Homo sapiens: one gene and its partner. The protein of the gene in region 1 interacts with the protein of each later gene in a pairwise test. Each region holds a gene or a part of one and is shown on either strand. Other genes may lie near its edges.

Region 1 (7,746 bases):
TCAGATAATCCGAACCAGCTGCCGTTTCTCCTGTAGGCACTGAAGGGAATTCAAATGTTATTTAAACCTCTTATGAAAGAAGTCCTATCCCACCTAAATTAGAGGACCCATTAAAGACCTCAAGCTATGTATAGCACAGTTAAAGTTTATATGTGTATGAAAATGTACATCCTTAGCCAAACAAGTCTAGAAACTTAGTTGCCATAACTCAAATGTCTTCTGTCTTCCTATTAATCCAAACTACCTCTCAAAGCAATCCACTGCCAACATTCCTACATACTTGGTTTATCTTCCACTTTCTCTTCCCTCAAAACTCACAATTTTCCAGTACAGGTGCGGCTCCTGGAGTTCCCAGTGCGTCAACACCGGCCTGAGGAGCTGGCCTAGTACTTCCCACCATTGAAACTGCAGTCTGGACAGCAGAGAAAGGATAGACCCATCACACCCGAGTCAAGAAAGCACCGCCACCCCCAAAGTCGTAGGCCATTATTCCAGGGGAAAACCCCCTCAAACTAAAGCTAAGAAAAATTTAACCTCTTACATCTATTCTATTACTCTTTCTTCTTTTCCCCTTCCAATGCTGACCACCTTGTCATTAATGTAACTCAATCAAACTCACCCCAAGTTATCACGTTTAATGCTATGTCTAGTCATACCCTGTAAAGATCTCCAAAGTCAAAGACAAGTCTCAGCCTCAGAAAAGTATCTCTGCCCCTTTAAGGTGAAAGGCCCCCCCTACCAAGACTCTTGTTCCTTAACAAATATAAGAAAACAAGTCTGTCATAGCTAGAATGATGTCCTATGGACAACCAAATGTCAAGGCTAGACCTCATCAGCAGGTGGCTGTATATCCTTAAAACCATACATTCATTTCACTAAAAAAAGCACCTCCCCAATTGCCAGTATAATCAATGTAATCCCATACAAATTTCCACCTCTACTGACCCTAAACCTACTTTAAGTCACTTCTATGGAACAGGAGCCAACTTGGCCAGCACAGACCTCATAAGATCTTTCGAAATGCGTTTTATTAATCCTTCATTCTCTTCACCCCCTTCCTTCTCTTCTCCTTCTAAGCTTTCTTCTAATCAGACTGCCACCTGTTTTCTACCTAATGATACTACTAAAGTAAATATTGTAGAAGTAAAAGATTTAAGACAAACCCTAGCAATTAAAACAGGATATCAAGATGTAAATACCTGGTTGGAATGGATTCAATATTCCGTCCGCACATTGAACAAAAGCAATTGTTACGCTTGTATGCATGGCAGACTAGAGGCCCAGACTGTTTCCTTTCCACTAGGATAGCCCTTCAGCCGACCAGGCATAGGCTGTATGGTAGCTCTTTTCCAAAATTCCACAGCCTGGGGCAACAAATCATGCCAAGCTCTCTCTCTGCTATATCCCGAAGTCCAACAACCTGCAGGCCAGCCCCCAAAGGCCATTCAGCTTCCTTCTCCTGACGTCAATTTCACCTCATGTCTCTCACGACGAGGGGAGAATCTGGCGTTCCTTAGAAGCTTAACAAGATGCAATAAGCTTAAGCCCTTCCAAAAACTTACCCATCAGTCTGCCCTTAGTCATCCTCAAGCAGATGTATGGTGGTATTGTAGTGGACCTTTACTGGATACTCTGCCAAGTAACTGGAGCGGCACTTGCGCTCTTGTCCAATTGGCGATCCCTTTCACACTGGCATTTCATCAACCAAAAAAAAAGAAAAGCCACAACACCAAAAAATAAGAGAAGCCCCTTATAAGTCTTTTGACTCTCAAGTTTACATAAAGGCCATTAGAGTCCCATGGGGAGTGCCTAACAAGTTCAAAACCTGAGACCAAATAACTGCAAGATTTAAACCCATATTTCCCCGAATAACTATTAATAAAAATGTAGCTTCGATAAATTACATCTATTATAATTAGCAGCAGTTTATGAATTACACCAAGGATCTTATCAAAAAACAGCTGACCAGTTAAGGCCTACTAGCCAAATAGCTTAAGAAAACAGAATCACTTGACTGGGCGCGGTGGCTCATGCCTGTAATCCCAGCACTTTGGGAGGCCAAGGTGGGCGGATCACAAGGTCAGGAGATCGAGACCATCCTGGCTAACATGGTGAAACCCCCGTCTCTACTAAAAAATACAAAAAAAGTATCCGGGCGTAGTGGCGGGCACCTGTAGTCCCAGCTACTGGGGAGGCTGAGGCAGGAGAATGGCGTGAACCCGGGAGGCAGAGCTTGCAGTGAGACAATATGGTGCCACTGCACTCCAGCCTGGGCCACGAAGTGAGACTCCATCTCAAAAAATAAAAACCAGAATGGCTCCAGACATGTTATTAGCCAAAAAAGGTGGAGTTTGTGTTATGATTAAAACCCAGTGTTGTACCTTCATTCCAAACAACACTGCCCCCAGTGAGAGCATAACAAAGGCCTTGCAAAGACTTACCGCTTTATCCAATGAATTAGCTAAAATTTCTGGAGTCAATGACCCTATTTCAAGATGGCTAGGAAAGTAGTTCAGTCAATAAAGAATCATAGCCTCAATACTTATTTCTTTTACAGTCGTAACAGGTGTACTTATTCTTGTTAGGCGTTGTGTCATACCATGCATCCGTAGGCTAATACAAAGGATTGTACGAACAGCATTTACTGAAACCTCCCTTAGTTCTCCTCCACCTTATTCAAGTAAGCTTTTCCTTTTAAAAGATCAAATCAAACAGCAAAGCCAAAACACGTTAAAAAAGTTTAAAGAGAAAAAATCATAAGAAAATTAAAAGGGAGGAATTGTAACATACAGTAAATTTCTCTGAGTTTCTTTTTTTTTTTTTTTTTGAGACGGAGTCTCACTCTGTCACCCAGGCTGGAGTGCAGTGGCGTGATCTCGGCTCACTGCAAGCTCTGCCTCCTGGGTTCATGCCATTCTCCTGCCTCAGCCTCCCGAGTAGCTGGGACTACAGGCGCCCACCACCACGACTGGCTAATTTTTCGTATTTTTTAGTAGAGACGGGGTTTCACCATGTTAGCCAGGATGGTCTCGATCTCCTGACCTCGTGATCTACCCGCCTCAGCCTCCCAAAGTGCTGCGATTACAGGCGTGAGCCACCGCGCCTGGCCTCTCTGAGTTTCTCTTCAAAGACTTAGCCTGCTAACTTCCTTGTCTTTTGTTCTCCAGCTCAACTTTCCTGTTCCTCCTTGCCCCTAGTTACTGTAAAACAGCCTACCCCCTTCCCGTCAGCTCTAATCAATAACTCACATCTGTTCCCTTGGTTACCTGTACCCATTGTTCCCCCGAAACTGCACGTCTCACACGCTCCATCTCTGTACCTCACGTTCCCCTCTCCTTCTATATTTAGAAAAATACGTACAAGTAGCCAGTCGGGTCAGCTCAGATTGTGTGGTCGAACCCCAGCCCATGAAGGAGTGACACAGAGATAGGGACCGCATTAAGGATAAAAAAACCCCCGGTGACCTTTGTTCTCTGTGCTCTTGTGATCTTGATTGACACAAGTGGCACACTTCTGCAGAAGTAAATTGCCTTGCTAAACAAATGAAACTTTCCCCTAAGTGCTAGTTTTACTTCGTGGGACCAAGAATTTATTCCTAAAGCATTTTATATCCGACAGAGATATTCATATATATAAAGAAAATGTGGGCCAGGCGCGGTGGCTCACGCCTGTAATCCCAGCACTTTGGGTGGCCGAGGCGGGTGGATCACTTGAGGTCAGGAGTTCAAGACCAGTCTGGTCAACATGGTGAAACCTTGTCTCTACTAAAAATACAAAAAATTAGCCAGGCGCGGTGGCATGTGCCTGTAATCCTAGCTGCTGGGGAGGCTGAGGCAGGAGAATCACTTGAACCCAGGAGGCGGAGGTTGCAGTGAGTGGAGATTGCACCACTGCACTCCAGCCTGGGGGGACAGAGCGAGGCTCTGTCTCAAAAAAAAAAGAAAAGAAAATGTGTGAAGATCAGGCTAGAGACAGAAATGTTTGGGAGCGTCACCTGGATAAAGGGTTCATGAAGTTGGCAGTTTATTTAGGTCAAAAGCTTAACTTAACCCCTGGAGAGAGTTTCCTGCTGGTGAAAATGAAGATCTGGAAGGAGGAAGCATTTTCACACTGTGAGGAGGGGATGGGGGTGTGAGAGCAAGTCTTAGCCATGCCTCATCCCCAGTTGCGGCCCGCTCCAAGACATATGCCTCTCCTCCTGGCGCAGTCGTGTCTGGCCTGGTCTCGGTTCCCCTGCTGCTCTGAGGCAGGAGATGGCTCCTGTGGACACTGAATCTGAAATTCCCTGCACACTCCTGTGACCCCATGCAGAACGAAGGAGCAGGGACAGTCCCTTGAGTGAGGAAGACGCTAGTGTTCTCCTCTATCAATAGCAAGTTTGGCTGAAATGCAAATATCCAATAACCAGAGTGCAGGAAGGAGCTCGCCCTTGGAAAAGCTGTGGTCAGAATCCGTCTGTCTGGCTCTGCAGGGCCCGATACCCAGGGCTTCCGCTGTCACTCAGACATGGGGGGCGGGGCCTAGCATTCCATCCAATCAGAGGCATTGTGGCGGGTCCCTGCCCACTGTTCCTCCAGACACTGAGGGGGTCGCATTCCTTACCTCACCTTTGTCCCTGCGCGGGCTGCGGCTGGGATCCGGTCTTTCCAGCCCCGAGAGGGACCTGGTTCCTCTGCCCAGGCTTCTGTCACTCTGTCACCTACGCTATGCCCTGCTGTAGTCACAGGAGGTGTAGAGAGGACCCCGGGACATCTGAAAGCCAGGAAATGGTGCGTGTCTGGGGCCGGGTGTCGTGAGACGGGGGAGGGGCTGCCTGGACCGACCGGAACCGACTGTGGCGAGACCCTGGCTTTCCTGCGGGCGACTTTGGGATCTGGGACCGAGTCCTCCTGGAGCCGCTCGGCCCTCGGTCCCCTCGACTGCTCGGTGTGGCTGGGCCGGTAGCCGGGACACCAGGCGTCCTGTCTCGTCTCTGCGCGGCGACTGCGGTTCCAGAGCCCTCTATGGGCAGCTCCGCGCCCGCAGCCACGCGTCTACCCAGATTGTGCGGGGGCCACGGGAGGGTCATGTGGGTGATCCCGACTCGGGTGTGGGGTTCGTGCTTGGGAGGAGCAGCGGTCTGTGGGGCCCCCAGTGTCCACTTTTTCTCCTGTTAAAAATTAAACTGAGGAACGTTAACAAAGAGTTCATTTGAGCAAACAGCGATTCACGAATGAGACACACCCAGTCCTGGCTTGTGGTTTGTCAACGGAAAAAGCCAAACTATGTAAAATAAAGAAGTTTATTCGGAGCCGAATAGGAGAGACCTTGGCCGAGGGAAAAACAACCCCAAGAAGCCTGGAGTAAGTGGTCCCGAGGCGGCTCAAGACAGTTTGGTTTTATTCATTTTAGAGAGACAGGAATTGCAGGGAAAATCATGAATTAGTGCCTGGAAGGTGTAATTTCCTTAGGCAGAAAGGGAGGGACCTGGCCGGGCACGGTGGCTCACGCTTGTAATTCCAGCACTTTGGGAGGCCAAGGCGGGCGGATCACCTGAGGTCAGGAGTTCAAGACCAGCCTGGCCAACATGGTGAAACCCCGTCTCTACTAAAAATATAAAAAAGAAACTAGCCGGGCGTGATGGTGGACGCCTGTAATCCCAGCTACTCGGGAGGCTGAGACAAGAGAATTACTTGAATCCAGGAGACAGGTTGCAGTGAGCCCACACAGTGCCACTGCACTCCAGCCTCAGCACAGAGTGCGACTCTGTCTCAAAACAAAAACAAAAACAAAAAACAGAAAGGGCGGGACCTGTGGAAGGGGGGTTAGAAGGCACAGGTGGTTGAGGGATTCTGTAGGTGGCAGCTGGTTGAGAGTGTGAAGCTTTGTCTAAAGTTTGGAGGAGGTAGGAAGGAATGCTGAAGGAAGGGGGTCTGTTATCTGCCACTTGATTCCATCCCAGCCAAAAAACAGACCTGTTTCTCTAGATTTTATGAATTCTAAGGTGTGACTTACCCTTGTCTTGCGTGGCCTTAGGTCTTGTTTGTAATTTGGTATCTTCTTGCCACAAGGAGTCTGTTTTTCCAGTCAGATAATGTCTGTTTTTACATGAATGTGCGTCAGTTGCTGCATGTAAACTCCTAAAGGGAGAGGGTATAAGGAGGCCTGTCTCACCTCCCATCCTGTCATACAGAGGCACTCAATTTTCAGGGTTTTTTGGGGGTTCCCTTGGCCAAGAGCCGGTCACTTCACTTACCTGGGAAGGTACTTTGTTTTTGTTTTTATTTAAAACAGAGTCTCCTTCTGTCACTCAGGCTGGAGTGCAATGGCTCAATCTCGGCTCACTGCAACCTCCACCTTCCGGATTCAAGCAATTCTCTAGCCTCAGCCTCCTGAGTAGCTGGGATTACAGGCACGCACCTGAAGGGGGCCTGCCCCTCCACCCCTGTGGGTGTTTCTTGTCAGGTAGAGACAAGAGACTGAGTAAAGAAATAAGACACAGAGACGAAGTATAGGGAAAGAACAGTGGGCCCAGGGGACCGGCGCTCAACATGCGAGGACCTGCACCGGCGCTGGTCTCTGAGTTCCCTCAGTATTTATTGATCACTATTTTTACTATCTTGGCGAGGGGAGTGTGGCAGGACAACAGGGTGATGGTGGGGAGAAGGTCAGCAGGGAATCATGTGAGCAAAGGAACCTGTATCATGAATAAGTTCAAGGAAAGATACTGTGCCTGGATGTGCAGGTAGGCCAGATTTATGTTTCACTTTATGCAAATATCTCAGTGTAGCAAAGAGTAACAGAGCAGTATTGCTGCCAGCATATCTTGCCTCCCACAGGGCGGTTTTCTCCTATTTCAGAATAGAATGAATGGTCGGCTTTACACAGAGACATTCCATTCCCCGGAACGAGCAGGAGACAGAAGCCTTCCTCTTATCTCAACTGCAAAGAGGCCTCCCTCTTTCACTATTCCTCCTCAGCACAGACCCTTTAGGGGTGTCAGGCTGGGGGATGGTAAGGTCTTTCCTTTCCCACGAGGCCGGATCTCAGGCTGTCTCAGTGGGGGAAAACCTTGGACAATACCCAGGCTTTGTTGGGCAGAGGTCCCTGCGGCTTTCCGCAGTGCACTGTGCCCCTGGTTAACCGAGAATGGAGAATGGTGATGACTTTTACCAAGCATACTGCCTACAAACATATTGTTAACAAGGCACATCCTGCACAGCCCTAAATCCATTAAACCTTGATTCAATACAGCACAGGTTTCTGTGAGCACAGGGTTGGGGCTAAAGTTACAGATTAACAGCATCTCAAAGAAGAACAATTTTTGTTAGTACATACCAAAATGGAGTTTCTTATGTCTTCCTTTTCTATGTAGACACAGTAACAATCTGATCTCTCTTTTCCCCACATGCACCACCACGCCTGCCTAATTTTTGTGTTTTTAGTAGAGATGGGGTTTCACCATGTTGGCCAGGCTGTTCTCGAACTCCTGACCTCAAGTTACCTACCTGCCTCGGCCTCCCAAAGTGCTGAGATTCCAGATGTGAGCCACCTCGCCAGGCCAGAAGATAGATTTTTATTTTTAGTTTATAGGTTGAAGCCTCAGCTTTTATAAGGTACATGAGGAGACAAACCAGATAAATGCTTGATTGGTTGCAGAGATGCAGTCGCCTTATTTGGACTTGCCAGCCCGAAATAATTCAAAGGTTCAGATTTCAGTTTGAAGAGTTTATTCAAGCAGAAAGATAGCAATGGCCCATTCAGGAA
Region 2 (8,231 bases), on another chromosome or scaffold:
CCTGATCTGCCCGCCTCAGCCTTCCAAAGTGCTGGGATTACAGGCGCGAGCCACTGCGCCCGGCCTACACACATTTCTTAAATGAGAGTTCCATATCCAAACCTCTTCCTTTTTCTTTTCTACTCATTACTCCAATGTGAGCTGGTCCATTCTCCCTTGTAGCTTTAATTACTTATCTATATGCAAACTTCTAACTCCAGCCTGCTCTCTCTGAACTCCAGACTAAAATGCACCTCCACCTGAATATCCCATAGGAACCTCTAACAAATGCTCAAAACTCAACTAATATCTTTATATTTCACCCCAATAAAAACCAGCTCCTCCTCATCTCAATCAACGGATTCACTATTACCTCAGTCATGCTAGCCAGAAACTGAGGAATCAATCAGCTAAGAGTTCCAAATCTAACTCCCAACATCCAAACTCTTATCAAGTCATATCAATTTTATCTCTTAAATATTCCTTGAATCCATGTCTTTCTGTAACTCCAAATGCTTAATTCAGACTCTCTTCACTTCTCTACTGGACTTTGTTTTTTTCTATTATACAACTGGCTTTTCTACTACCTGTAATGTTTCCCCTCCCAGGTCCATTCTCTACACTGGGGCTGGAGTTATCTTTCTAAAATACAAATCTGACGCCACCACCACTCTAGCTAAAATTCTTCAATGACTGCCCTATATCAAGAAAAATTCTAAACTCTGAATATGGTGCCAAGTACTTTAAGATCTGGCCTCACCCACTAATTGCAAGTATTCTGGGATCCAGTCATTCAGAACTACCTAGCGTTTCCCAAATACAAAATACTGATTCTTCAATCTATCCTTTGCTTATTTTGTGCCATCCATTTGTCCTAGAATGACTTTCCTCATCATCACTCCAGTGAAAGCTTATTCAACTATTTTAACACAAGTTAAAAGTCAAATCACACTGAAGGCCTCCCCTGACTTCCTTAGACAGAGTCAGGATCTTTCTACTAAATGACAGAGAATGGTCAGTGCTTGAGATCAGGACCAGACCCACCTGGGCTGAAATCCCAGGTTCACACGTTACCAGCTATGATTTTGAGCAAGGCCTCTAAAGCCTGTTTCCTCATCTCTAAAAATCAGTAACTACTTCACCAACTGTTTTGAGGATTAAGTAAGGAGTTGCATGCAAAATACTCCTCACAGCACCTGACATATTCAATAAATGTTACTGTTATGTGATTATTTCCTCTGGGCTCCTAGAGCAACTTGCACTTATCTCTACCACACTACTGTGATGACAAGACTGCCCATGCAGGATACAGACTATCTTTTTTCATCTCTTTATTCTCACCACCTGGCATAATGCCTGGCACATAGGTTCCTAACACATTTTGAATGAATAAATAAAATACTTCAAACCTTATGTTGTATCACATAAGGCCTCAATTTTGTTTTCTACCTGTCTTACTAAACCTACTTTCCATCTCCTCCTTGTACAAAATTGCAACCTCAAGTAAAATTTACACAGGTCAACTTCATTTTAATTAAGAGAAAGTTTTATAGGATTTGTGGTCTTTTTGTTTTTAAACACACACACACACAAACTCACAATAATATCAACAATTCTCCAACTTACTCCATAAAGCAGCAAATTTCTAGGATGGTTATCTACCTATTAAAAAATTTTAAAGGGTCGTCAAGGAAGGTTTCGTAAATCTGTGTCAGCTTCCTTTACCAGCAAGTCTTTGAGTCAACTCTAAGGACTCAAGTGTACTCCTGAACATAAAAAATATATAAAGAATTAACTAAATAATTAAAACATGGTATTTTTCCTTCCGAAAACATGCTGAGAAATTCTGAATAACACTGGAATAATCAAAGAATTATTGCTGCCTACTGCTAAAAAAGTCTGTTTTTAAAAGTTACTAGTAATTTAAAGCTGAACTAATCAAAATATGTGTAGGCAGTGTTCAGGCTGGCAAGGGGGGGGTGGGGTGGAGCACTCATTTCACAACCTTGAACCTCAAGAAATAAAATTCAAAAATGCAAAAAGTTAAAAATGCCAGATACCACCATATAATCGCAATGACATCTTTTTATCTATTTCCACACTTAACCTTTAAACATTACTGCCCTTTGAGTAATTACCAATTGATGGGTTTAATATGCAAACACCTCTGAGCTACTTTAAAACAAACATGACTAACCCAGAAATAAACGTATCCAGGAAAGGAGAAAAACCTGTTAAAACACGGTTTCTCAGGTCTCACATCCAATGTGTGACATACATACGGTTCTGCACCGAAAGGCAGCAACCTGCGAGGGTCAGAGGCGCCGAAGACCCGAGGCCCTGCAGCTTGGGCGGCTGCTCATCCCTGAGACTGTGCAGGGCGGTGGCCCAGCCGGGGTGGGGCTGAGCGCTGCAACTGGGGCGGGCCCAGCTACAGGGCGGGAAGCCCGAGGCTCACCTCCACTTCCCTTTCCCAACGCACAGAGCCCAGGTCCGCGACCACTCAACAGCCCCCTCAAGACAAAGAGAGATTTTTTTTTCTGTCCCGGTCCGCTCAAAGTTTATCGGTCTTTCCCGGCGGTCGGGGCCGCCGGGCTTTGTAGTTCGCCAGTCCGAGCTACCCCACCAAGACCGCGAGCCCGAGGAGTCGCTGAACTACAATTCCCATGATGCACCGCGAGCCTGGCGCTCCCGCGCCCCTCCCCGTCCCCGCACGGGAGCCAGCGCCCGAGGAACCCCGCAGCCCACTGCCCTGGCGTCTCCGGCAGTGGGAGGCCGAGAGGGGCTGTTGGCTAGAGCCCTCCACCACCTGCTGTCTCGCCCTCGCCCCTTTCTCTCGGATTCATTACCCAGAAGGCGCAGGTCCGGGCACATTCAGCGATGCGGTCCAGATGGGGTGCGGGTGGGGCGCAGGCCGCCGCCGCCGCCGCCGCCGAGTCCGTTAGCTCGCGACGTGCGTGAAAAGGCGGCGGCGGCGTAGTGTTGCCATGGCAGCCGCGGCCGCGCGGTGGGCGCAGCGCGGGAGGGAGCGCGGGGGCTGTGAGTCCGCTCTGGGGCGGAGCTTGGGACTCCCGCCCAGGTTGCCGGGGGGAGGGAGGTGCAGCGGCGCGGGGTGGGAGAGCAGGGAGACAGTGACATTGAGGAGGACGTGTGGCCGACTGAGCTCTGGTCGTGCTTGATGAGCCTGCCTCCACTGCGTCCAGCCCCCGTGGCAGGGCACCTTCGTGCCTGCTGCTTTCGGAGGTGATGCCAGTGGCGTCGAAGGAGGGGGCACCCGGGGCGTCGCAGCGCCTTTCCCGCCGCCTGTCCAGGCGTCCGCCGCTGGGTCTGCCCCCAAGGGATGTGTGGATCCTACGCCACCTCTGTGTTTTTCTCCAGTCAAACCGAATTGAAGTCTTTCGCACCCCCTTTCTCCATTCTCTGGGGAGGGGGATAGAAGGGAATCCTTCGATAAGATGGAATGCATATGGCCTTTAGGATTATTCAGGAGGTTTTAGAATTTGCAAATGGCATTGCTTTCGACTGAATTTGGATTTATGCTGTTTCTTGGCAATCGTTTGTGGACTCTAGGATAAACAGGTTAAGAGCGTGGGCTTCTAAAACGAATTCTTAGTTCACGTCCTGCCCCTGTGCTTGGTAGCTGATGACCAGAGGCGCCTTTCTCACCTCTTAACGTTTTGATCTGCAAAAATGGAGATATCCATCTTGCAACTCTTGTAAGAAATACACGCATTAATACTGATGAAGCTCTATAAAACAAAGCTTAGCATTTAACAATAGCTATTAAATATTAATTATTTAATCAATAGTGATAAAAGTCAGAATAGTGGTTGGCTGTCGGGGAGGAGTTTGAGAGAATTTTTTGTAGTGATGAAAAAATTCTATAGCTAAGAGTTTCGGTTACAGAAGTATATGCACTTGTCAAAACTCTTGGAATGGGACATTTAAGATTTGTACATTTCACTGCATGTAAATTTACCTCAAAAGAGAACATAAAAATGTGTTGTTATTATTATTAGAGCTATAGACTCTAATGGAAACTACAGAGATATTCTAGGCCCAATCTCTAGATTTTATAGATGGGAAAACTGAGGCCCAGAAATTTAATAGAAAAAAAGAGGAAGGGGAGTGAATTCGTGACCTTGTCATTTTCTAGTAATGAATATCTCCTGAAAAATTATGGTTGAAAATAACAAAAATGGCTCCTGTAATCCAGCTGAGTCATCCTACCACAGAGATTTTCTTGAACTTGACTGAGTCCCTTATCCACCTTGTGGTGTTCCCCACGGCCAATGTCCTCTCAAGGATTGCACCGTCACTTCTGGCTCTCAGTTCTTGCTTTTCCTGAACACTTAGACCTCTCCACATATCACCTCTTACAACTCTCCTCTCTCTACTCCTGCTGACACATAATTTCGAAATCAGCCCCTTTTCTTTGGTTGTTTCTATAGCCAACTCTTTAGAAGGTTTGGAGCAGATAAGTGGTTTTAAATTAAGGATGCAAAAAACCTAAAATTAGAAATCCCTGCTCTTAAAAGTCCTTCAGTTCCTCCCATGATATTTTTATCCACCTACCACCTACCCCCATTTTTTCATCATAACCTGTAACCTCCCACTATTGTACCATCTTTCTGGTCCCATCTCTCCCCTCCTCTCCTCTCTTTATACAATACTTTTATTTCCATCTCCTAATCTGTGCCTTCATAGCTACCTGCCATTCCTAAACTGTTTACCAAAGTTTTTTCCTACACAAAGTAACTTCCCAAGAGGAACTCTGGAGCCAGCTATTAAAATAATATTTTTTCACATATGTATCCTCATATTCTATTTGATTCAGTCCACAGTGTAGCTGCTCAATAAATATTAAGCAGCTTACGTACATGACCTGTTGATATAGTTTGGCTGTGTCCCCACCCACCTCTCACTTTATTGTAATAATTCCCACCTGTCAAGGGCAGGGCCAGGTGGGGATAATTGAATCATGGGCGCGGTTTCACCCGTACTGTTCTTATGGTAGTGAATAAGTCTCATGAGATCTGATGGCTTTATAAATGGGAGTTCCCCTACACAAGCTCTTTTGCCTGCCACTGTGTAAGAAGCCCCTTTGCTCTTCCTTCATCTTCCGCCATGATTGTGAGGCCTCCCCAGCCATGTGGAACTGAGTCCATTAAAACTCTTTCCTTTATAAATTACCCTGTCTTGGTTATGTCTTTATTAGCAGCATGAAAACGGACTAATACACCTGTCCTGGCTACCTTCACAGTGGGTTCACTTATGAAACCCATTTTCTTACATCCATAATAATGGTTTACTCTAGTATAAATGAGGAAGCTATGTGATAATAGCTGGAATCTGCTGTCTAAGAGGAAGAAAAGAAACCAAAGTAACCATAGCTTGTACAGAAGAAATGACAGCACTTAAGAGATGAAGTCCGGAACAAAGTCTGGTATGAAGCCATAGGACATCCTTATAGGAACTTGGACCTGTCACCTGCAGCAATTTGGTCACAACTCTGCATATGTAATGAGCATGTAAATAAATTCTCCTTTACTCCTGGAGAAGATGTTACTGATCTGCTACCAGCTGAACACATGTTTGTAGTAGGGATGATAGGTTCACCGGATCCATCTCTCCCTGATCTGGTTTCCCTTGTGACCGATCACTTGTCTTTCTTTGCAAGGCAGCTGGCCAAGGTTGTAGTGCAGCCTACAGCCATGACGAAGTCTCCAAAGACAAGGTCCCAATGCATAACGCTCCTTGTTTTGTGAAGCCAGGATCCCAGAAAATCAGCTCAGCAGGACAGGCCACTTGAGAATGGATGACAGCAGCACAAACAAAAGCTGTCACAAAAGTGAGTTGGAGGTGGGCAGTCGCGGGAGGGAAGACCACAAGCCACTGAAGCACAGCCTTAAAATGCCTCGCATGGCTATGGACAGGTAGGAACGAATAAGGACCGATAGTAAACCATAGTTTATTGTTTTCACCAGATACTTTGGACCTGTTCAAGTGATAGTTAAACACCCTATACAAATCCAAAAGATGGAGCTGAAAGTAGTAGCACATTAATCCACACAGGCAGTGTGGTCAAGAGCCACCACCCTCATTTACAGCGCATCTGGTTTACAGTTGAGGTCTTTCCTCAGTTCTTAGAGTTCTTGGCCTCTCTGGCATTTGACTTTGCTGACTACCCTCCTTGGTGGGTCCTTGACCTTGGATCTCTTCAGAGCTTTCCAACCAGACTTCATTATGTTATTCACCAGCTCTTTTACCTGCTTCTTAAATGTGAGGATAGTTGCCAAGGTTCAGTCACTACACCTTTTCCATTTGCAAGCTTCCGCCTTGGCCGTGGGTGATGCTCCAATTTCTCTTGCTAGTTCTGATCCACAAGTTCCAGCACTGCACAAGCAGGCCCACTCTTCCTTAACTTGTTCTGTTACTTCTGTTCTCTTCGTCTAAGATACCAGCGCCTTACCCTATCTAAGGTCTACGTATTCTGAAAACAAACCTTCACATGAAACCTTTCCAGATCATTCCTGCTCAGTCATATCACCCTGCTCTGTGCTCAGAATATTTCCTGCCAATCTCACTCCCTTGACAGCTGACCATACTGCTGAGTGGCTGCTCAGTATTGTTTACTCATTGGCTTTTTGTCTTTTCTCACTATATTTCAAGCTCCTCCAACGTGTATTTCTGGGTATTCTCAAAAACACCTTCATAATACTCTACATATAATAAGGGCACAATAAATGTTTTTGATTGGTAGTTCTTTTATCTTTTCCCCTTAGCAAAACTTCCTTTATCTGGTAGCTCTCCCTCTTCTAGTACTATGCAGGACATTTGCAGCCTCTTGATATAAATTTCCCTGAAGCCTATAACTGTGGGCCCCCATACATATTCAGTGGAGGAGTACCTTGGGAGGTAATTCCTTAAGTCGCTGTTGCTGTGGAAGGAATTCAGTATGTAAGTAGCACTGAATTCCAACGTTCAGGCCCTCTTACCGTAAAGATCTAGAGCAGAGTTTTCCTCACTGTGGGTCACAGTCTATTAGTAGGTCATGAAGTCAATGTGATGGGTCTCTTCCGGCTTTGTCATATTTAAAAAGTGATAAGGTAAGGTAGTGTAGGGTAAAGTAGAATGCAATAGAATGCGGTAGAAAATGAAATCCAGAGGGTATGTGCATGGTTAGGGTCAAGTATCGTATGGCAGTTACTGAGCTGTCATCTTTCAGCTTCAAACCTACCCTCTGTCCTCTGCTTTGTGTTGGTGGGGCTAGAATTGTGCAAACCACATTTCTCCTCTGTCATCTGGGTGGAGAGGCTGGGGCAGCACAGCAGGACCAGAGGAAGAGCACAAGGCTGGAGGAGAGGGAAGCAACTTGCTCCTTCCTGACAGCCTGCTATGCTTGGCAGCATCACTCCTGCCACAGACTTTTAGCCTGGTGGCAGTTTTACTTGTCTCCAGCTTCTTATTGTATCTCAACCAGCCTCATCGCATCTCTTCTCCCTCCTCCCCAAAGCATTACCTGCAGCAGCAGCCAGACAGTGTCCCTCTTCAGGAGCCTGTGCCCCAGCTTCAACAGGCCTTTCCTACAAACCCCAACCTCCTCTCCTCCCTTTGATCTCCAGCCCTTCAGGCGGGAGCTGCTTCTTGCAGTTATAACCTATGTATTACTCCAGTGTTCCTTTTTTAATTTTTCAGTCCTTGAACATCTGTCTAATCAATTCCCTGTGCTAAATTCTTGCTCTTAAAATACCTACTTAAAGTTTCTTTTTTCCTGACTGAACCCTGACTAATATGGATTGTTAAGTAAGATGTACTTCCTGCCATAAGTGTCCATCAAAAGGGTTTAAGAAACACTGCTTTAGAGGATTGGGAGTTCTTAAATAGCCAGATGACCTGAGATGCAGCTAAGGGGCCAGTCCTAACATGTAGAGGTACTCTGGATTTCAGGTCCATGAAAAGCAAAGATCCTGTTCCACTATAGCAGTTGTCACTGTTGGACCCCAGTCACAGCCTGACCTGTAGGGATCACTAGCGGTGAGCCTGCAGTTGTCCATCAGAGTATGGCCTGAACCCATATGGAATCTGTCCTCTCTCAGATATGCAGAAATTCAGCTTCTTTACTTGTTACAGTTTTACTCGTTATTAGCAAGTGAGAGGAAGCAGAAAGTTAATGATGAAGAAAGCCGGGAACTACTACCAGAGACCTCATACAGTGAAATGGAACTTGACTGAGTGGAAGAGAAGGATTT

The links.
Region 2: the proteins of ZNF69 (region 1) and KATNAL1 interact in binary tests that used the Homo sapiens proteins (3 or more experiments, as listed by UniProt).

Annotation. Positions count from the first base shown.
Region 1 is NC_000019.10:11,883,218-11,890,963, forward strand, and holds the start of ZNF69 (zinc finger protein 69), read left to right. Parts: upstream 1-4,564; 5' UTR 4,565-4,706; coding exon 4,707-4,769; exon of another isoform or gene 4,770-5,342; intron 5,343-7,746.
Region 2 is NC_000013.11:30,304,503-30,312,733, forward strand, and holds the start of KATNAL1 (katanin p60 ATPase-containing subunit A-like 1), read right to left. Parts: upstream 3,050-8,231; 5' UTR 2,829-3,049; intron 2,510-2,828; exon of another isoform or gene 2,438-2,509; intron 2,355-2,437; exon of another isoform or gene 2,177-2,354; intron 1-2,176. UniProt on the Homo sapiens protein: Regulates microtubule dynamics in Sertoli cells, a process that is essential for spermiogenesis and male fertility. Severs microtubules in an ATP-dependent manner, promoting rapid reorganization of cellular microtubule arrays.